Linked DNA regions of Homo sapiens. The protein of the gene in region 3 interacts with the protein of the main gene of each other region in a biochemical or structural test. Each region holds a gene or a part of one and is shown on either strand. Other genes may lie near its edges.

Region 1 (7,427 bases), about 43 Mb from region 3:
ATTCCAAACTAATAGGCACTTTGAATCTGTGACATGGTTTTCTTACCATGACATAATGCCGCTGCATCTCTGTCTTCTCACTGGCGAGTTTCTCACATTCCAGCTTCAGACTGTTCAAGACATAAGATACTCTAAGTACAATGATCTTAACTTACATCCTTCAACTCTTAAACGCATATTCTAAATCTCACCTACAAACAACTAAATCAACAATCTTAAATAAATACCCCCATCATTATGGAAAGGGAAGGGGAAAGGGGTGATTGGAACCAGTCTGGACTTGCCCCTTCAATAAGGATCATATATGTGGTTTTTTGTTTTTAGGATTTTTTTTTTAATTAAGTTTTAAGGAAACAAATCCTCTAATCAGTTTAATTCAGGAACTTCCTCCAGAATTGAATATTCACTTAATAAAACAAACACGAAAATAAACTTCAATAATGACTGCACATACAAGCACAAATAAGTCCTCCAAAACGTCACAAGGGAATTTCTTTAATGTTCTACAAAGAGATTAATGAAAATATGAATCAAGCATGTCTTATGAATGATATCTTGTTTTTTTCCCTCCAAAACACACAGACAAGTTGAATACCACCACCCAGGGGCAAAGTGTCAATCGGGTTCAGTGGTTTGTTTTGGTTCTTGCATTTATGAAATAAGAATTAGGCATCATTAAAAAGCCAGCTAAAGAAAAATGTCTCAAAGGCACCCTAAGTCTAAAAATCGTCTATAAGATGAAAACATTTTTTTTTTTTTTAGCATAAAAGTAATGAAATCGCTCACTCCGACTTCCCTGGGCTCTCAGCTCTTCAGTGGAATGGCAGAAAAAAGTGAGAAGGAATCAAGTCCGGAGTAATAAAGAACCAAGGATGTCAAAAGGCCCCAGAATCTTCCCAACCTTTCATTCTCCCGGCCCCAATAAATCAATATCGAAAGTTTGGCCTCAGCGTTTTCCAAGTCTCCCCAGTTTCGATTGTTCTGCCTTCTTTTTATTTACGGTAGAAGAAATGTTTAATTTATTTACACCTGCCTAAGGAAGGAGGCCTTGATTTGCCCTTTCTGCCCACCGAGAAAAAAAAATAATACCTTTGTGACGCCCCCACAAAAAAGGAGGAGGGTAAGTGTTTGTGTGTATTTGTCGGGGAGACAAGAGCTAAGCAAACAGAAGGATCAGCTAAAGTCAATATCGTTACCTGTGGTATTGAGCCTGTAAAAACTGAAACTCTTCCTTAATCCGATCACAGGATTCGGAAATTGTAAATTTAAAGGGTTGAGCAGGCTGATGCGGTGCCTGAAGAACAACAATAAAATATTTAATTAGCCCACATCACAGGCGAAGCAGGGAGACGGAGAAAACCTACTATGCGGCGTTAGCGGGGGGTGAGGGTCATCGCGCACGCAAGCAAAGAGAGATTAAAACTCTCCTCCCGCAACCCTCCTCGCGCCCAACAGCCCAGGCAGAGGCTGGTTTCGAGGTGGTCCTGGGGCCCCGCATACTCCCGCCCGCAGGCCCCCGCGCCCCGGACCCCGAGGGTTCGAGTCCCGTCTCCCCTCCCCGGCCAAAGACAGGCACCCAGGGACCCGCGCGCCGCGCCCACTCCCTCCTCACCCGGAATCGAAACTGGCCCGTCGGGGGGACCCGCGCCATGGCGTCGGGCTGCGGTCAGGCCGGGGGAGGAGGGAGGCGGCCGCCACCCTCTCGGCTCGTTCGTTCGCCCGCTCGCCCCGGCGGCCCGCGGCGCGAGGGGCCGGCGCCCCGCACTTCCAAACCGCAGCCAGCCCAGCAGCGCCGCTGCCGAGGGCGCCCTCCCCGCCCGGGCGCGGAGTCGCGCCTCCTTCATCGCTCGCCACCCCCCCTCGAGGAGTCGCGGCGCGGGGACCGCAAACGGCTCGGCGCGGCTTCCAGGGGCTTCAAAGACAACAATAAGAAAATGGCTACAACTCAATTGCCTCTCCGCACCCCCTCCGAGGGCCACCGCGCCGGGGGGTGGGGGTGATGGCGGGCGGGCTGCTCCCGGCGCGGGGCGCCGATTTCGGGCGGCTCTCCACGCCCCTCCGGCCAAAAGACACAACTCGGTGCGCAGGGGGCGACGCGGGGAATCCCCCAGCACCCGGCGAGCCCGCGCCCCGCCGCCCGCACTCACTGGGTGTCTGGTCTGCGGGTACATCTTGCTCAGGTCGCGAATCATCCAAGCCGATTTAGTTGGCTGCGCTCGGCAGAGGCGCGCGGCTCATTGGCTTTAATGACCCCGAAGAGGAGGCGGCCGCGGCAGCGGAGGCGGCCGGCTCGGTCTGAGGGGCGGCTCGGGCGGTCCCGGCCCCCGCCGGGTCTCGCGTGACACGGGCGGCAGGAACGCGCGGCGGCGGCTGGGTGCCGGCTGCCGGGCCGCTCCGCATTCCCCGCGGGCGTCACTGGCCCGCCGCGGGCATTGTCCGGCGCGCGTCTCCCAAGGCAACGCTCCGACGTTCGCTCCGCCGAGGCGCACCCGCCGAGCCCGGCGCCGCGGCCGCCGCTCACCCGGCCGGGAAAGTGCGGGCTCCGCGCCCCACCGCCCGCCGGCAGCTCCTCTCGCTCGCTCTGCGTCCCACTCCAAACTTTTTTTATTTGTCTTTTAATTGGTTGTTATTCCTCCGAATGAATGATCTTTCTTCTTCCCTAAAAGCAAACACAAACTCCTTTGGTTCGGAAGAGGTCTCGGCGGTGCTTTTTGGTTTCTCTGGAGATTTTTTTCACTTCACAGCAACGATCTTTTAAAAGGCACCTTTTAGCTTCTTTTACCACATCTCATTTCCTTATTTCTCTTCCTTCCTGTTTTCTTGTCTTTTTTTTAACCCCAAATTGAAGGGGATTATAAAAATAAAAGAGTGAAACGCTTGCGGCTTTTTTTTTTAATTCTCTCTCCTTTCAAACTCTGCGAACACCACCTCAAAATAATATACAAGTGTGTGAGAAAGGGGGAAGAAAGCAGCCAACAACCCAAACACCCGCTCAGCACAGCTCTAACAACACGCTCTGTGTAGGTGACTTCTTTGACCAAATTTAGCAGCAGCTAATCATTAACATTCTGATACATATTCACAATCTTCCGCGGGGCGGCCGCGCAGCATCCCGGGAGATGTAGTCCGCCCCGGGCGACCCTGCCTGAGAATACGGCCAGATTGACTACAATCACCGGCCCGCCATGCGAGCGCTCTGGCGAGCTCTCCAAGCGCCCCGCCCACCCCCGTTGCGGTAGGCGTCTCCACCAACCAATCAGAGGTGGCTGAACATTAATCGCCGTTCTGTGTTAGTGCCCATCATTTCACTGCTGACAAATGGCAAGCCAGCGGGGAGGAGCCAACCCAGCTGAAACCCACGTGGGGGCCGGGCGTCGCCTGTAGCTCCGACCAATTAACGAAGAGGAATGAGGTTGGCGGAGGCGGGGCGGAGATGGCCCGCCCAAGGCGGAGCTTCGCCTTGGCTGACGTTCCTTAGCGCGAGCGTTCGAACCGGGAAAACATTTGTTCAGCTGTCAATCAAAGTAACGTGGGGCTGGGAGAATCGGCGGCTGCTGCTGTTGCTGCTGCCCTGGCTGCATCTTCAGAATTAGGTGTTGGTGGTGGTGGTGGTGGTGGCGGCAAAATAAAGAGGGTGGAGGGAGCGGTGAGCCTGGGGGCTGGTCAAAAGATCTTCTTCCGAGTCTCGTCCTCCCGCCCACCCGTCTCCCAACCCAGACACCTTCGGCCCCTCGCTCCGCAGCCGCGCCAGGAATGCGGACTAATTAGGGTCCAATGTCTCCTTAAAGAGACAAGCTCGGCCTTGTGTAACGCGCCGAAACCCCTGTTGAGACAAGAGGGGGAGGATCACGCTGATCTTACTTCGTTCGGTTCACATCAATTTTACGCGCCGCTGGAGCCGGCATAATTTTCCGTGTGAACGCGACTCGGTCCCCGTTCTTGTTTAGAGCCAGAAATGGAGTCGCGAGATGCTGGCTGGGGCCGGGGCCGCGGGGTGGGCGGGGAGCTCGTCCCTCCAAGCCCCGCGGGGGCTGTGATTGCCATTTAGTTCCGAAACAGGCCTCCCTCCCTCCACCCCCGGAGGCACTCGGAGAGAAAGCGCATCCCGACGCTCCATCGGGGGTCGCGGGGGGCAGTAACCGTGGGGGCTCCGGGTGGGGCTGAAGATCCGGGAATCAGAGACGCTGGACCTCCAAAGAAACTTTGCCGACTGGGCCACGTGAACCCCGAACACGGTCGGTACTGAACAGAGCAGGCCGACGGGGCACGGGTAGAAAACGCCCCTGCGCGCCCTGGGACGTTCCCTCCCCCAGATCAGTACCAAGACTGCGCCTCTTTTTCCCGCTCTTTGGAGAAGCAAGTCAAGTTTATCCCCGTTAAAAACAGAGCAGGGTGCCACGCGGGCCCGAGAGATGGCGGAAAGGTGGGGGTGGCCCCAGGGGCAGATGCTGGAGGAGGAGAGAAAGGGGCAGCCATGGCTGAGGAGGGGCACCCCTAGGGAGGGGCCTGGGAAATGGGGGCGGCCTCCGTCAGTGCGCCTTTCCATCCTTAGTCCGTGTCCAGCTGGAGGCAGCGCCCCAGTTCAAGGGGAGGCTGCTGAGGCTCGCAGTCTTTTCTAGCGAGCGGCTAATCTTGGGGACAGGGAAAAAATTCGGAAAAAGTCAAGAAGAGTGTTGGCTAATGTAACAGGCTGGGTTTTAGACGTTTATTTCTATGCGTGCTTGCCTACTGTAACTTGACCTGTTGGTTGAGATGGTGCCGCCGGTTCGGCGTTAGTGGAAAACTATTCTTCTTAATGATATCCCTTTCCTCAGTGGATGACTCGGTGACTTAATGTCCAACCTAGCACGTTCTGTGAACCTCCTTCCGTTCTGGCCACTGTAGTGAGCTGGTGCAAAGGAAGGCTATGGTGGTCTTCACCTGCCTCTAATTTCATACTAAAAACCCAGAGCCAAAGTTCACAGAATGTTTCAATTCGGCAAATATTTTCGCCTCCATCCCCAAAATAAGAGGACAGAGAAGTCCTTTTGACAGTTTTCTGAACCTCTGCTGTTCCATACCTAGCCACATGTGACTGTTAAGCACTTGAAATGTGTCCAATTCAAAATGAGATGTGCTGTAAGTACACATATATGTGGCATTTTGAAAAAATTAATGTGAAAAAACTGCAGCTCAATAATTTATAATTATGTCAAAATTGTGATATTTTGAATAACTCAATTAAAAATATTAGTAAAATTAATTTTGTCTGTTTCTATTTATTTATTGTATTGATGGGGGTCTTCCTGTGTTGCCTAGGCTGGCCTCAAACTCTGAAGCTCAAGCTATCCTCCTGCCTGAGCCTCCAGTGTTGTTGGGACTGCAGGCACACACTTTTTTTTTTTTTTTTTTTTTTTTTTGAGACAGAGTTTCGCTCTTGTTGCCCAGGCTGGAGTGCAATGGCACGATCTCGGCTCACCGCAACCTCCGCCTCCTGGGTTCAAGCGATTCTCCTTCCTCAGCCTCCCGAGTAGCTAGGATTACAGGCATGCGCCACCACACCCAGCTAATTTTTTGTATTTTTAGTAGAGACGGGGTTTCTCCATGTTGGTCAGGCTGGTCTTGAACTCCTGACCTCAGGTGATCCGTCCGCCTCGGCCTCCCAAAGTGCTTGGATTACAGGCGTGAGCCACCGTGCCCAGCCTCTTTTTACTTTTTTAACTTTGTTCCTAGAAGATTTTAAATTATGAGGCTTACATATTTCCATTAGACAGCCCTGCCCTGAAACCTTCCCAAGAATCAAAAGTGAGAAGACTTTAGTGATACAATTTGCACACGAGGACAGCGAAGTTTCTAAGAACACCAGCAACAACCATGTTTTATTCTAAGGTTGGTTAGTTGCTTGCTCCCACTAGAGCTTTTCAATGGTTTGTGAAATCACCCACAGTGCCTCTGTAGGAAGTTCCATGTTCTCTATTTTAGCCAGAATGTTAGCAAGTTCCATGAGAACAGGGACCTGGTTGTGTTCACAGTTGCACTCCAAACTCCCCAAATTATGTCTGCCATCACTGTCTGGTAGTTGGTGCTCAGTAAATATTTGTTGATGGCATTAATGAATGAATACCTCATTGCATCCTTATAGGAAGTTTCCACATCATTTGGGTCATATTTATTGAAATTCTGTGCAGTTTTCTCTCAGGACAGGAAACGAGAATTCTAAGAATAGAACCCGAAGAACTATTGAAAGGGTCAGTGGACAAAGAGGAAACTTTGCTCTGTTAGGAAATATCAGATCACTTATAGCAAGGATCTTTCCCCTAATCTCTCTCGATGGTTTGTGTCAACAGGAAAGTGGCTAGAGAAGTCAAGATGTTTCTTTATTTTTTAAGTTCTGTATTAAAATATAGCCCTTGGATGTGTTTCACATTTTGGCCACGTGGCAGAGCTATGTAACTCACCTCAATGTCTCAGAAAGATGCAAATGCAGCAACTGGCGGCCCAGCCCTAGCCGTAACACAGACTGTAAGTGGGGCTCATGGCCACTTTTTCTCCTTTTCTCTGCTGTGCTTCTCTCATTGCACTTCTCGCTAACTGTTGAGCCAAGCTATGATGTTATCTGGAGGCCTGTCTTATCCCTACCACAGAGTGGGGGGTAGGTGGGGTGTTCCAGAGTTTTCATGTGGGAGGCACTTGGCAGCAACTTTCATGTTAAAAGCTAGGCCTGAAAGCTCCAATCTTGAAGTGACATATGCCAAGCATGCTTTTCACTTTGGTTAGATGTAAATCATTTATTTATTACTTCACCAAATATTTATTAAACCTACTATGTGCCAGAATATGGGGATTTCACAATAAAAGTGGCTATTATTAATATGTTGCCTCTTAGCTCCAAATTCATCCTCATTGCCTGCCTAGTGAAACTGAATCTGAGCCCTTTAAATATTTTCCAGCTGTTAAAAAAGCTAGGTCAATAGAAGGCGCTGGAGAGACATTGCAGGAGGAAAGGGTTTGGTTTCCTGGTTCCTGGCTCTGGTTGCATACTGGGCAGGTTCCTACAGCACAGGTAGCAAGCAGCAGCACCCAGCAGCCAGCAGCTTCCTCCAGAAGCCCCTTAGGTGGCTTTGGAGCAAGTGCCTCTAATGAGTCACCTCCCTCAGCAGCTTTCCTTGGAACCCCAGAGAATGGATTTCCAACGAGTTCTGGAATGTGGATTTCTAGCAAGTTCCAGAAGGCAGAATTCTAGCAGGGCTCTCCTGCTATTCAGAAAGTTACAACTGTGCCCTCTCCAGCAAAGTCTGGATCTCAGCCAGCCCTAAGAGTGTGTCTGTGTCTTGGAGGAGCTCTTTTTGAGATGCTGTATCTCAGCCCTAGGGTTAGTAAGTAGCTGTTCCTTATATCTCTATTTCTGTATTATTTAGAGCTCTCTTTACCTCTTACCAATCTCCCTT
Region 2 (7,023 bases), on a different chromosome or scaffold from region 3:
TTAATTAAATTCCAATGTTCAAAACTGGATAGTGTGTATGGCAGGTGATTTGTACATACATGTTACTCTTCATCAAAATTGTTTTCCATCCCTGTGACATCAATACAAACTGCAGCTATTTGGTTCCAAACCATAGCAAGATACATTCTATTTTTTAAAATGTAAATGGTCATTTAAAATAGAAATAATTCTTTTAGACGTACTGCATTTTTACAAATGTGATTTTGGAAATATATTGCTCGCAAAGGGTAATTTTAAGAGAATTGTTGAGATTCTAATCCCATCTTTATGCATATTTTGGGGAGGCTTTTGAAAGAGCAAAAAGGTAAAAGATTTAGTTATCTTCTGAGACCACCTATAGTTCTTTACCTAAAGTTGTAGAAGAAAAACGTCAATGCACTGTTACTGTTTTCCAATGAAATTATTTTTCTTCCAACTAACCAAGCAGTACTTTTTAAATCCACTGCAGAAATGTACATTTCATTCCTGTTGTGAGCCGTTTTCAATTCTCCTCCCTCCCTCTCCCCGCAACAAAATTTGGAAAAATCTGTCACGTAGCATCCGCCCAACGTATCGCTTCGTTGTATTTTTTTTTTTTTTAATTTTGCATTATGACAAAAGTAAATTCTAGCATTACTCCAGGGAAACACTGGGAATGAACCTGGTAATGTTTCCTTTCCTTTCTCCCTTAGGCAAAGGAAGGGGAATTCTGTATTGTCGCTAAAATGAGCGCTCTTGGTGGAAAGGAATTCCTCACTTCGTACACGCTGTGGCTGTCCTTGAAAGTGCAGGCTCCGTAAAATGCCCGGCCGACTAAGGGGTTCCCTTTCCCCGGAGCCCCTGCCTCTTTCCATTCATTTTAGATCCTCAGTAAGGAAGGGCAGAGGTTGGTCTGTTTCTTCTTTTCAAGAGGGCACCGCGCTGCGCAGTTAACAGCCTGCGCCGCTCCGGGGAAACCCAAATGTCCCGCGATCCCATCGAGTCAAGGAGCAAAAGCTGTGATTGCTATCAGCTTTTTGTCGGGCTTCAAACTCGGGGTTTATCGGTTGAAACTCCTAGCTGAGCAGCTCCCACGACGCTGCCTCTGACGGCTAAACTCGGTGCATGCAAGGCTGGGACCAACTTTCCTTACTCGATAAAGGAACTTGACTCCCTCCTGGGAGACCGCAGCCCGAGTCCGACTCGCAGCCCCCGTCGCGGGGTTTAGGGTTTTAGGCAAGCGGCCCGAGACCCAGAGGAGCCTCCCTGGACCTTTCCGAGGGGCAAATCACCCGAGTCTGCTATTTCCCCTGGAGTCAAAAGCCTACTTTTGGAGCCGCCACACCCTCGTGCTCCCTCCCGCATCTCGGGGGTTCCGGGGGATGCACGTGGGGGTGGCCCCAGGAGCCCTGGGTGGGATCTCGGGGAAATGCATTGGAGACCAGGCGAAAAGGTTTCCCTTGCCCAGAACTTGCCTCTAGAGCGGGCCGCGTCCGAACCCGCAGGCAAAGGCGCTGCGGCCCCTGCGGGCGGGCGGGCGCGCGCGATGCACTCTTCTCAGGGACAGAGTTAGAAAGTGGACGTTTGGGCGGGGGGAGGGGGGGATTTACAACTGGAATTAGGCTTAAAAAAATCATTTTAAAAGAAAAATGTAGTAAGTTTTCTTTCCGAGACCCCAGGTCCATTAAAACAAAACTGAACTCGGGTGCTGGCAGTGCCCAGGGGGAGCGGAGGCGGAGAGGGTTGAGGCCGCGGGCCGCCCGCCTTAGCCCCCCGGAAGCCCGGGCTCCTGAAGCACAGATAGCCAAGAGCGGCCCGAGTCAAGCCCCAGGAACAGGGGCTTCGGGAAGAGACCCCGACCGGGCCGCACAGCGGGGAGGCCTGGTCCGAGAGTCCCCACCTGGCCGGCTGCGACTCTATATTGGAACCTCGGAAACGCGCCTTGGCCGTTCCAGCTCAAGTGGGCTCTGGGGCGGCTTCCTGTCTTTTATCCTCGAACGCTAGTTCTTCCCGGGCGACCCGAAGGCCACGAGGCGGGCCGCACAGCCCCGCGCCGTCGGGGGCGTTCCGGGAGCTCCGGGGACTGCGCGCGGCGTCCAGGGAGGGCGGCTGCTGCCCCCTGGCGTCCGCCAGAGCCCGCGGCGCGTCCCGACAGCTCCGCGCAGTCCGGGCCCGCCCGGGAAAGGCCTCCACGCCAGTCAACCCCGGCCCCCTCCTGCGTCCGGGCCCGCGGCAACGCCCGGGGACAGTCCCTGCGCGGCAGCGGCCACAGCACCCTAGCCCTGGGGGAGGGAGGAGCGGGCGTCAGGGGCCCCGTGAGGTCGGCGAGGGACCCCCGCGCCGGGGAGCTTAATTGAGGGGCTCCGCGGGGACCACAAAGCAGCCCGCGGTGGAACGGGGCCGGGATCCGGGGACTGGGTTGCAGCCCCGGGGTGGATGAGAGGCCCCGGGAGGTGCAGGGCCCGGCAGGGAGGGCGTGGAGGGACTCATGGTGACGGGAGCAGCCTCCGCTGGGAGGGAGCCCCGCCGGGCGGGGTCGGAGTTGGCAGCGCACGCCGGACCGGGGGCGGGGCCCTCCGAGCTCCGCGAAAATGCCCGCAGCACCGCGGGGACCGGCGCAGGGGGAAGCGGCCGCCCGCACGCGAAGCCGGGGTGGGTTCCGCACCTGGGGCCGCTCGAGCGCACGGGGGCGGGGAGAGGAGCGGGGGCCGCTTCCGGGGAGCCGGAGGGGAGACGCGGGGCCCGGGCAGGCTGTCCGGCTGCTGCGGGTGCCGGCGCTACAAGGCCCGGGAGCAAGCCGCGTGGCTGCTTTCAACTTTCCTTCCAGCCGCGCGTTCTTGGGGTCTTTCCTGACTAGGAAACTCTTCGCTGGCCGCTGACGCACGCAGCAAGTGAGACGCGCGGAGGGATCGAGCCGCGGCCCGGGCGCAGCGGTAAAAAACACCCATTACAGAAACCGACCCAAGGGAAGACGCTGAGAGCAAACGGCACGCGCGGACGCCGTCCGGCCTCATGCAAGGAATCAGCGCCGCTTCGCCGCAGCTGCCAGCCGGACGGTGCAGGAGCGCGGAGTGGCTCCCCCGGGCCCCGCGGCCAAATCGCACCCCCGCCCTGGAAGCGGAGGCCTGGCCCTGGGCGGCCGCGCAGGATCTGGGGCCGTCCGCGGGCTGCAGCCCGGTTCGGGAGCCTCGTGGCGGCCACTGCGCCTGCCTGCAGCGGCTCGCGGGGCCGGGCCTCTCCGGGTGCGGCGCGCCGGCCGGGTCCTCCTCGGGCCGGCGGGGCCTGCTTTCTTTTTCCAGGTCTCCGGACCGTGGCCACTCGCGGAGCCGCACAAGCCTGCGTGTGGCTGCGGAAAGGGGTCCGCACGCGGGCGGGGCCCCGGGCCAGCATGCAGGCTTGGATGCGGGGCGCGGGGGTGGCCTCCGACTCCCCGCCCGGGCTGCGTACAGTAGCGCGCGGCGCGGCGGCGGGGGCGCGCGGGCCAATTCCAGGAGCCGGCGGCGGCGAGCCGCGCCCTGGCTGATACCGGAAAGGCCTGTGATTGGCCGCCGGCCGCCCCTATGCAAACGAGCTGAGGGAATGGAATTCCTCCGGCCGGGCTTACAGTAAAAGCACGTTCATTTCCAGGCACTCTCATTCATAGAGCCAGCGGGCGCGGGCGGGACGGGCGCCCCGCGGCCGGACCCAGCCAGGGCACCACGCTGCCCGGCCCTGCGCCGCCAGGCACTTCTTTCCGGGGCTCCTAGGGACGCCAGAAGGAAGTCAACCTCTGCTGCTTCTCCTTGGCCTGCGTTGGACCTTCCTTTTTTTGTTGTTTTTTTTTGTTTTTCCCCTTTCTTCCTTTTGAATTAACTGGCTTCTTGGCTGGATGTTTTCAACTTCTTTCCTGGCTGCGAACTTTTCCCCAATTGTTTTCCTTTTACAACAGGGGGAGAAAGTGCTCTGTGGTCCGAGGCGAGCCGTGAAGTTGCGTGTGCGTGGCAGTGTGCGTGGCAGGATGTGCGTGCGTGTGTAACCCGAGCCGCCCGATCTGTTTCGATCTGCGCCGCGGAGCCCTCCCTCAAGGCCCGCTCCACCTGCTGCGGTTACGCGGCGCTCGTGGGTGTTCGTGCCTCGGAGCAGCTAACCGGCGGGTGCTGGGCGACGGTGGAGGAGTATCGTCTCGCTGCTGCCCGAGTCAGGGCTGAGTCACCCAGCTGATGTAGACAGTGGCTGCCTTCCGAAGAGTGCGTGTTTGCATGTGTGTGACTCTGCGGCTGCTCAACTCCCAACAAACCAGAGGACCAGCCACAAACTTAACCAACATCCCCAAACCCGAGTTCACAGATGTGGGAGAGCTGTAGAACCCTGAGTGTCATCGACTGGGCCTTCTTATGATTGTTGTTTTAAGATTAGCTGAAGATCTCTGAAACGCTGAATTTTCTGCACTGAGCGTTTTGACAGAATTCATTGAGAGAACAGAGAACATGACAAGTACTTCTAGCTCAGCACTGCTCCAACTACTGAAGCTGATTTTCAAGGCTACTTAAAAAAATCTGCAGCGTACATTAATGGATTTCTGTTGTGTTTAAATTCTCCACAGATTGTATTGTAAATATTTTATGAAGTAGAGCATATGTATATATTTATATATACGTGCACATACATTAGTAGCACTACCTTTGGAAGTCTCAGCTCTTGCTTTTCGGGACTGAAGCCAGTTTTGCATGATAAAAGTGGCCTTGTTACGGGAGATAATTGTGTTCTGTTGGGACTTTAGACAAAACTCACCTGCAAAAAACTGACAGGCATTAACTACTGGAACTTCCAAATAATGTGTTTGCTGATCGTTTTACTCTTCGCATAAATATTTTAGGAAGTGTATGAGAATTTTGCCTTCAGGAACTTTTCTAACAGCCAAAGACAGAACTTAACCTCTGCAAGCAAGATTCGTGGAAGATAGTCTCCACTTTTTAATGCACTAAGCAATCGGTTGCTAGGAGCCCATCCTGGGTCAGAGGCCGATCCGCAGAACCAGAACGTTTTCCCCTCCTGGACTGTTAGTAACTTAGTCTCCCTCCTCCCCTAACCACCCCCGCCCCCCCCCACCCCCCGCAGTAATAAAGGCCCCTGAACGTGTATGTTGGTCTCCCGGGAGCTGCTTGCTGAAGATCCGCGCCCCTGTCGCCGTCTGGTAGGAGCTGTTTGCAGGGTCCTAACTCAATCGGCTTGTTGTGATGCGTATCCCCGTAGATGCCAGCACGAGCCGCCGCTTCACGCCGCCTTCCACCGCGCTGAGCCCAGGCAAGATGAGCGAGGCGTTGCCGCTGGGCGCCCCGGACGCCGGCGCTGCCCTGGCCGGCAAGCTGAGGAGCGGCGACCGCAGCATGGTGGAGGTGCTGGCCGACCACCCGGGCGAGCTGGTGCGCACCGACAGCCCCAACTTCCTCTGCTCCGTGCTGCCTACGCACTGGCGCTGCAACAAGACCCTGCCCATCGCTTTCAAGGTACTGGCCCGGAGAGGGTGGTGGGAGGACAGGCGGAGGCCGGCGAGGCCGGGGGAGATCCGCGAGGGCAGCGGCCAGGCGGGCGGGGCCGGATTCTGGAAAGGGGCCCCCGCAGCCCCGGGTCGGTCTTCCTAGCTTGGGATGTGGGGGATGCTGTGTTGCCGTGGCGACCCTCGGGAGGCACTCGTCTCAGCTTTCTGGGGCGGCCTCCCAGGAGGGCTGAAAACATCAGGGTGTCCCCAAAGATATCCACTGGGAGCCGGTCGGGACCTCCCTGGCAGGGGCCTTAGCTTTGATACAAAGTAGGAAAAGTTATAACCCAGCCCGGCAGAGACAGCCCGTCTGCTAACTTACTGCTGCCCCTACCGCTGGATTAACACCCAAACCATTTTGTCTTCCTCAGATGAAAGGATCAGGAAATAAAATAGTAAGACTTTTCTGCCTTCAAGTCAGTGAAAAGAAACTAACTAGGGAAACTGTCAGGGATTTTTTTTCCCCTTCTCTAACCGCCCTATAGGAATTAGCATGTCCAAAGTCCACAGCGGGCGTAGTTAAGTTTGCAAAAGTTTTCTGAAGAGTTCTCTGAGCTTTTTAGCCTGCTCCTGCCAGAAGCCGCAAGTATCGAATCCTGTTTCTTTTCCCGGAACCGTTCTGAATGCTATCATCAGCTCACCTAGATTAAGCCAGGGGTAGCGAAAGGTGACGAGGCTGTTTTCGGAGAGCCAGGGGTCCCAGCGGCCCGCTTTCCTGCTAGAGGAGGGGGCGGCGCGTAGCCGGAGACTTCAGCGCGGCGGCTCCAAAGATCTCCCTTCACTTTTCACCCCTGATCATCCCCAAAGCTTTGAGCTGCCTTTAAAAACCTTGACCTTCAACAGGGGTATGAAAACAACCCCAGGCGTTTCTAAACAATCACCCTACTACACTAGCAGCAAGCAGTAGGAATTTAATTTCTGCAGTGGAGATTCTGTTTTGTCTTTGGTGGGTTTGAAAAGATGCGACTAAGTAAAATCAGTGCGGGTCATTTCCTGTTCGTTTAAAGGGCGAATCAAGGCAGGTGGTTCCAAGTGTAAAGATAAGCTACTAAAAAAAAAGTTTAAATAATTGTCCCCTTTAAAGGGAGATTAATTTAATATAAGCTTTTTATAGTTCCAAGCCTCAGCTGGGTCTTGATCTTATTACAACGACGAATATTCACTTTTTAAAAAAGTATTGTTGCGGTTATTTTTAAGCTTTATACAGTTTCCACACTTAGATTGTGATTTCTAAAACAAAACGAAATTTGCAGTTGGCTGTGTCTATAGATTGGCCTCTTTTTCCACTCACTTTTCTAAAAGCAGTTTTTTTTGTTTGTTTTGTTTTTTAGTGGGGGTGGAAATGAGGAGAAGGAACGAAGGAACGTGGTGGCTTGCTTGACTCTTTTTTCCCTCCCTCCGTTTACTTAGATTTGGGTTTGGGAGACCATTTTACTTTTAAATCATTCTAACCCTTTGCCTAAATGGACTCAGCGATGACTCTTTAGGGCACCCGCATTGAGAGGGGACCCAACAGGGTTGGGCCA
Region 3 (7,023 bases):
AGGACCCTGGCTGCCGTACTGCAGAGCACACTAGACGTTCCAACAGAGAAAGGAGCTCAGCATCAAACTCTTCCTATGAATAAGGAAACTAAAACCCAAGATGCTCAAATGACTTGCCCAGAATTGCACAGCGAGTCAGCCCAGACTCCCAGCCCCCATGCCCCAGCACTTTACTTTAAGCCACATTCAAAGGAAGCGCGGTCCCTCTGCTAAATACTTCCTATGTGAGGCATAAAAGCTATTTGGATTTCAAACCCACTTAGAATTTGAGGTTTAAAACTCTGAGGGACTTTGTGGCATTTAAGGATCCCATGGAAACATCACTCTTCCTTCTTTGAAAGGCTAGGCTTCTCACCATCATCCCACGCCCCCCGCCCCACCACCAGTCCTCACAAAATTACAGTGAAAGAGAAAATCATGGTGCCTTGAAAAAGGAAACAGGAAGATAAGGCTGAAGAAACACCCACATCTATGGCACTGATCAAACTGCCATCAGTGCAGTAAGAAGCTTGGGCCATCAGCTATGCCGAGAATTCAAAACCCAGGGGTCCAACTGTGCCAAGCTGCAAGGGGCCCCACAGGTGGCACCCAGGCCTGTGACTGTTGTGGAGAAGAAAGAGGACACAGATAGAGGTCGATGTGAGTGGATCACTTGAGTCCAGGAGTTCGAGACCACCCTGGGCAACACGATGAAACCCTATCTCTACAAAAAATGCAAAAAATTAGCCAGGCATGGTGGTGGCACCTGTAGTCCTAGCTACTTGGGAAGCTGAGGTGGGAAGATCACCCGAGCCTGGGAGATCAAGGTTGCAGTGAACCATGATTGTGCCTCTGCACTCCAGCCTGGGTGACAGAGTGAGACCCTGTCTCAAAAAAACAAAAAAAAAAAAAAAAAAAGAAAGAGGAAATGGATAAACAATCTCAGAAGGCCTGCTACCAAAATTAGAATTAAGAGCAGAACTAACAAAACATCTTCCCCAGGGCCACCTCCAGCCCGGGACAAGTTTTGTTAGCCTGCACAGTATATTTGTTTTTATTTGACTTAGTTGCTAATATTTTTAAGTTGGGAGATTTTTCATAAATATCTGAATTCTAGCTTCTCTTGAAAAATCAGAACACCCAACAATACTGGCCTCACGTTCTCACATGACCCAACCAGTTGGTACTAAATAGAGCTGCCCCTCTAAGCTGGGAGTGCCACTTGTACTCCCCACCCCTTGGCCACGGTGCTGGAATAGAAGAAGGAAGACCCCATTCAACCCACCGTTTGGGTCAGCTTTGGGATGGCCACCTCCAATGGACACTCAGACTGGATCCAGCGATCCCTGCAGGTTGTGCAGCCTCCCAGCACGTTTGTCCATAAGAAGTCAAATGAACAAGGTGATCTGTGTCCCAGGAAATCCCCCACAAGCCTAACAGAACTAGTTCAGTGATGCTTAACCCCTTGTCAGTCATGGTTTCCTAGGCTGGTCCCCTGGAAGGTAACAGGAAGTCACATACTCCTAGGGGTGAACCGTGGAGATGCCCCTGTGGCTATAAGAATAGCCACAAATCCAGCCATCACTCCCTCCCCAGCTGTTTGAAATCAGAAAGGGTGAAAAGTTGCCTCCAAGGGAGGCAAGGGCTGGGAGAGATGTGGACCCTCTTACACAGTGTCATTTGCAAGGCAGGCATTTAGAAGCTGCATTCATCTGAATGCAGTGGGAGCTTTGCCTTCATCTGAAAAATAAAACTGTATGCTGGGATGGCTCTGGCTTTGGGGGTTTAGGGGTGAGGAAGGCAGCCGCATGAGATTGTCCTACACTTAGTGAGCTGTCACTGAAGAGAGCAGGAAGGAGCCAGAGAATACTCCCAAAAAGGAGCCCCCAGTGAAGAGCACTGGAGAAGGCTAAGGATGAGAGAGGGCAGGCAGCCAGGCAGCAGAACGGGCAGCCCGCGAGGATCTGAAATGCAGAAGAAAATACTTGTCCTCCCTCTTGTCTCTCATCTCACAGATCCTCAGTTCTGTCACTCGCAGAGTCCTACAGGGCAGTGGTGGAAAGAAACTAGCCCTCCTTTTACCGTTGGGAAACCTGGGTTCTACCCCCATGTCTATCTCCAAGTCACTGTTCCTCTGCACTCTCCATCTTGGCCTCTGTTGCTACAACTGCCACAGGATAGAGTCAAGCCTTAAGGACTATAGGAGACCACAGACATGAAAGCACCTTAGAGGCATGGCCTGCCTGGCCATGGCTTTGGACTGGACACTCAGGACGCCCCTGAGGCTAGCCATGGCCCTACAGACAGCAGTTAGAAATTCCCCACAGCACAGGTCCAGGCAGAAAACATCAGCGGGCCCGTGATCTCTCTTGACCACACATCCCATGCCCCTTCACAGTCTTTGCCACATCTGTAACCACTGCTCTATTTGCCTCATACATTTCTTTCACATCACTTCAATTTTGACTTAAATAAATTTATTTTATAAGGCAATTGTAGTTCCCTACTGTAAGTGGGTAGGTGGGAGTGTTGAGGGGGAGTTCACAAACTCACTGGTTTGGTGTGTTACTTACGTTTTTCTAACATACATTAAAATAAATGTATTAGAAAACAATGTGCACCCTTGCATCTTTGCATTATAGAGGATGTAAACCGATGCTCTGTAAATAAGTTATGCTCATCCTGCAAGGCATTTTTAATTGAAATTAGTTGCCTCTGTTAAAAAAATATATAGATTAAGCTAGGTGTGATGGCTCACACCTGTAATTCCAGCACTTTGGGAGGCTGAGGTAGGAGGATTGCTTGAGCCCAGGAGTTCGATACCAGCCTGGGCAACATAGGGAGACCCCCATCTCTACATAAAAAAAAAATTAATTTAAATATAGAGATTTCACATACAGAAATATCCATGCATACATCTACACAAGCCCCAGCTTCTGCCTTCTCTTGAAGAATGCAAAAAATCTGGCAAACACCAGACCCATGGTCCTGGCAGCATTCGGCTGGAGCTAAGAAGCACTGCCCCTTTAATCGGACTTGTGCTGCCTAGCTTGCCAGGGACCCAACCTCTCCCCATCGTCTTTTGCCTGGCCTGCTTCCCTCATTACCTTATCTGCCTGGCCCCATGTAAGGCATTAGATTTTGTGACCCCCATGGACTACCTAAGGTTATCTTGCGAACCCCCAATTATATGTGTACTCTACGTTGGGAAACCTGTGGGTCCCCAAAGCCTGACCAGGGGTTTGGCTGATGTTCCTCTGCAGAGCAGGCCAGCTGCCTGTCATGTTGTTTTGTGTCGTGGAAATCCCGCAAAGAGCCAGAAGTAAGGGGCTCATAAAACACAATGGAGCCTCTTATAATCCATAAAAAGAACAGGAGTTATCCCCTCCTCCCCAAAACCTACCATCATCATTGCTATCCCCTCAGCAATTTTGTCCAGGTGCATCAGGCTTCTAAGTGCATGTCAGAACCCCACCCTGGACAAAGAGCCCCTCTGGAACAGACCAAGAAACTGTGTGCCTGATTCTCCTCTATCTCCCCTGTACCATGCATGATGTCAGGGCCTCTGTCAAGGTTTGCCAAGAGAAGAAAAACAGGCTAACAATTTACAAAATAGCAGGACTCAAAATGTGAACACATGCACTCCCACAGCGATCTGTGCATTTGAATCATCACAGAAGGATCCACTATCAGGACAAGAGGCTCTCATTCTAGTCTGACCGACCACCTCATTCTGCCAGGAGTGAGGGTCTCCTACGCCCACACAAGCTCTGCACTGATGATGGTAGGGTGTGATTTGGAGAAATGGAAACTGTCCAAGTTTTCAGGCTGCTCCCTTCTCTTTTCTCTGCAGAGTTTAGAGAACCATCATTTCTGTTCATCTCTGAACTTCATCCCTGACTCTTTGGGTTTAAATGGAGTTGAAATTTCATCATCTACAACAGAAAACTTTCTTCCATACATTTATTTTTAAAGCTCTGAGAGCGCCCTTCCATGTGTCTTGGATCAGACTGGAAAGGAAAGGGAGCTGTGTGGCTGCCAGGAAGATCCTGTGCATGACTCCCAGGGTGTTTCTCTGGTTCTTTCTCTCCCTGTGTGAGATTCCATGTATGAGTTGGGGAGAGGGCAACTCCTTTGCTCCAGAGCATCTTAGCCTCCTGGACAACACCTCTGGAGTTGAAGATGCACATCAGAACCACTGGGGTTCTGGGCTCTCAGAGAGAGGAAGAGCTTTGTCAAGGTCCCACTTTGAGCTTGTGGCAGAGCTGGAACAAGGAGCCAAGTCTCCCAACTCCAAGTCAGGTTTATGTTCCTCTCACTCACTGGCTCAAGCTCTGCCCAAACTGGAGGAAGGATTTTCTTCCTGGGAATCTTTGAGATGGGCCAGTGCTAAGACCTTGAGCCTAGGTTTGCAGGGACAGCGACATTTGTGAAGATCTAGTCAGGACAATTCACTGTGAAGTGTTCCACACATATAGGTGGGTGGTGAAGGGAGGGATGGAAATAACTCTGGGCTCAGAAGAAACTCGAGCGGCCAGGGTGTTGGCATGCTCCCCTCTCCCTGGGCCTAGGACTCCTACCTGCTTTGGAAAGAAGAGAAGGGTAACAGAGACCGAGCAGGCCCCATTAGCATCCCTCCTGTTCAGTAACCCCTAAGGGGCCTTGGTGAAAAAAGAGACCAGATCTTCAGGAAAGGCACATGCAGAGCCTCCAGGATGCCCTGCCATCCCTCCAAATCCCCAACCCCCACAGGCACGAGCCCCTCACCTGTTGATGGAACTGACGCTAGGCACGGTGTCATTGTCACACACCCGCTCTGCCAGCAGCCGGTCCCTGATCTCCCAGGCAAACATGGTGGGATTTTGGCGTTTATATTCAGCGATTTTTTCCACCACTTTGGGTGTGGCGACCTTTGGTTTGGATCCTCCAATTACCCCAGGCTTGATGCTTCCTGTCTCATAATACCTAGGACCCAAAGAGAAAGAAGCTTAGCCATGAGGAACCAGTAAAGTGGATATTGGCAACAAAATAACGGGCTACTCTGGCCAGGAAACGTCCGGATCTGCACGTTCCAATACAGTAGCCACCAGCCAGATGCGGCTTTTGAACATTTGAAATATGGCTAGTCTGAATCAAAATGTGCTGTAAATATAAAATACACACCAAATTTTTAAAACTTAGTACCAAAAGAAGTAAAATATCTCAATAATTTTGATATTAGTTGTATGTTGAAATAACAATTTTTATATATTGAGTTAAAATATATAATTAAAATATAGTACCTCTTTTTTTTAACTTTTCTTAATGTGCTGCTGGAAAATTTTAAATTGCATACACAGCTCTCATAGTATTTCTTTTTTTTTTTTTCAGACGGAGTTTCGCTCTTGTTGCCCAGGCTGGAATGCAATGGCGTGATCTTGGCTCACTGCAACCTCCGCCTCCTGGGTTCAAGTGATTCTCCTGCCTCAGCCTCCCGAGTAGCTGGGATTACAGGCATGTGCCACCATGCCCAGCTAATTTTGTATTTTTAGTAGAGACGGGGGTTTCACCATGTTAGTCAGGCTGGTCTCGAACTCCCGACCTCAGGTTATCCGCCTGCCTCGGCCTCCCAAAGTGCTGGGATTACAGGCATGAGCCACCACGCCCGGCCAGTCTCTCATTGTATTTCTATTGGACAGCACTGGCTAAGCATTAACAAAATTCTTTCACATTCATCTACCATTTTATAGTTTACAGAAAACTTTCGAGTCAGTTTTCCCATTTTATCTCCAACAGTTCTAAAGCACATAAATTGCTTTGAATTAATGAATGAGTGAATGAACAAATAAATGAATAGGTCCTGATCTACAGGTATAAAGCAGAGATTCATCAAGGTTAAACAGTTTTCCTAGGGTCACACAAGACCAAATGGGCAAGCTAGGGCTGTTGCCCACCCAGCCTCTTGAACTACAATTTCCCCAATAAGGTAGCTTACACTTTTGATTTGCCAGCTCTCCCAAGCCCTAGCACAATCTCCAGCATTGTATGAAACTGTCCCCTGAAATGCAACTTATTTTTCTGTAAGAGAAAAATAATAATCCTGGTGTAAAATTAAAAGGAATGTTGAATTGCAGAATTATCTGAAAATATCTGTTGTAAGTCAAAACTCAAGCAATCGGAAAAACCAACCACAAGTCACGGCAACTCTTCCAGGGACCTCCCCTGAGGTAAATGGCTGTTTCTAAGGACATTTCCATGCTATCAGCATTTGCTCATTAAGGAAAATAGGATGTCAGGGTTTTACAGTAAAACCAAGACCAAGAAGAAGAGTGTCATGAAACATCATTTCAGGGGGGGATAATTGACATAATTTCTTTTCTGAATCTGAGACATCACCAGACGTCTCTCTCAATATTTACAGAAGAATTCTTGATTTCCTTTTCCAAGGAAATTATCTTGCAGTTGAATCTGTTTTAAAAAACCAAAAAGACATTTTTTAAATGACTAATAATTTTGAAACCTAACAAGAGTTGATGATAGGTAAGGGAACGAGGTGATTCTGAGATGGGTAGAAAATGTTACCCAAGATGACTGGTCACATTTACAGAGATGCTGAAATTCTCAGCCTGGGTATGTTTGGGTAAGGCCAAGTTAGTGAATATCCTGAAAGAGATGAAATACTTTGGAAGCAGTGATGTGAAAGTGAAATGTCTGTTTTTCATTGAAAAGAGTGAGTCATTTACAAATTTTGACCATAAGGTAAAAACTCAACCTATCTTCCCTCTTTCTAAAAAATTGCTTTCAGCAATTTTTCTGTAATTGCCAAAAAATTATTACTCACAAACAACTTTTTAACAATATCCCAAAAAAACCAGATGGCTAGAAAAGCACCCTAAGTCAAGGCACACAGCAATCTCTGCAGTCTCCAATTGTCCTGTCAATTTTATAATGTAAAGCCAATTTTTACTATAATACAACTCACTATAATTCAGCCACAGCACCCTAAAGTTTACAGAGCTCTTCCTCGAATTATCTTGATCCTCACACTAACCCTGCAAGGCCACA

The links.
Region 1: the proteins of PAX5 (region 3) and TLE4 form a complex in vitro, tested with the Homo sapiens proteins (2 studies listed by BioGRID).
Region 2: the proteins of PAX5 (region 3) and RUNX1 form a complex in vitro, tested with the Homo sapiens proteins (one study listed by BioGRID).

What each region holds. Positions count from the first base shown.
Region 1 is NC_000009.12:79,567,556-79,574,982, reverse strand, and holds the start of TLE4 (transducin-like enhancer protein 4), read right to left. Parts: upstream 3,019-7,427; 5' UTR 2,193-3,018; coding exon 2,148-2,192; intron 1,807-2,147; exon of another isoform or gene 1,652-1,806; coding exon of another isoform or gene 1,613-1,651; intron 1,295-1,612; coding exon 1,197-1,294; intron 111-1,196; coding exon 47-110; intron 1-46. UniProt on the Homo sapiens protein: Transcriptional corepressor that binds to a number of transcription factors. Inhibits the transcriptional activation mediated by PAX5, and by CTNNB1 and TCF family members in Wnt signaling.
Region 2 is NC_000021.9:34,885,285-34,892,307, reverse strand, and holds part of RUNX1 (runt-related transcription factor 1), read left to right. Parts: intron 1-2,226; exon of another isoform or gene 2,227-2,415; coding exon of another isoform or gene 2,416-2,631; intron 2,632-2,836; coding exon of another isoform or gene 2,837-3,502; exon of another isoform or gene 3,503-5,195; coding exon of another isoform or gene 5,196-5,211; coding exon 5,212-5,465; intron 5,466-7,023.
Region 3 is NC_000009.12:37,010,251-37,017,273, forward strand, and holds part of PAX5 (paired box protein Pax-5), read right to left. Parts: intron 4,945-7,023; coding exon 4,747-4,944; intron 1-4,746. UniProt on the Homo sapiens protein: Transcription factor that plays an essential role in commitment of lymphoid progenitors to the B-lymphocyte lineage. Fulfills a dual role by repressing B-lineage inappropriate genes and simultaneously activating B-lineage-specific genes.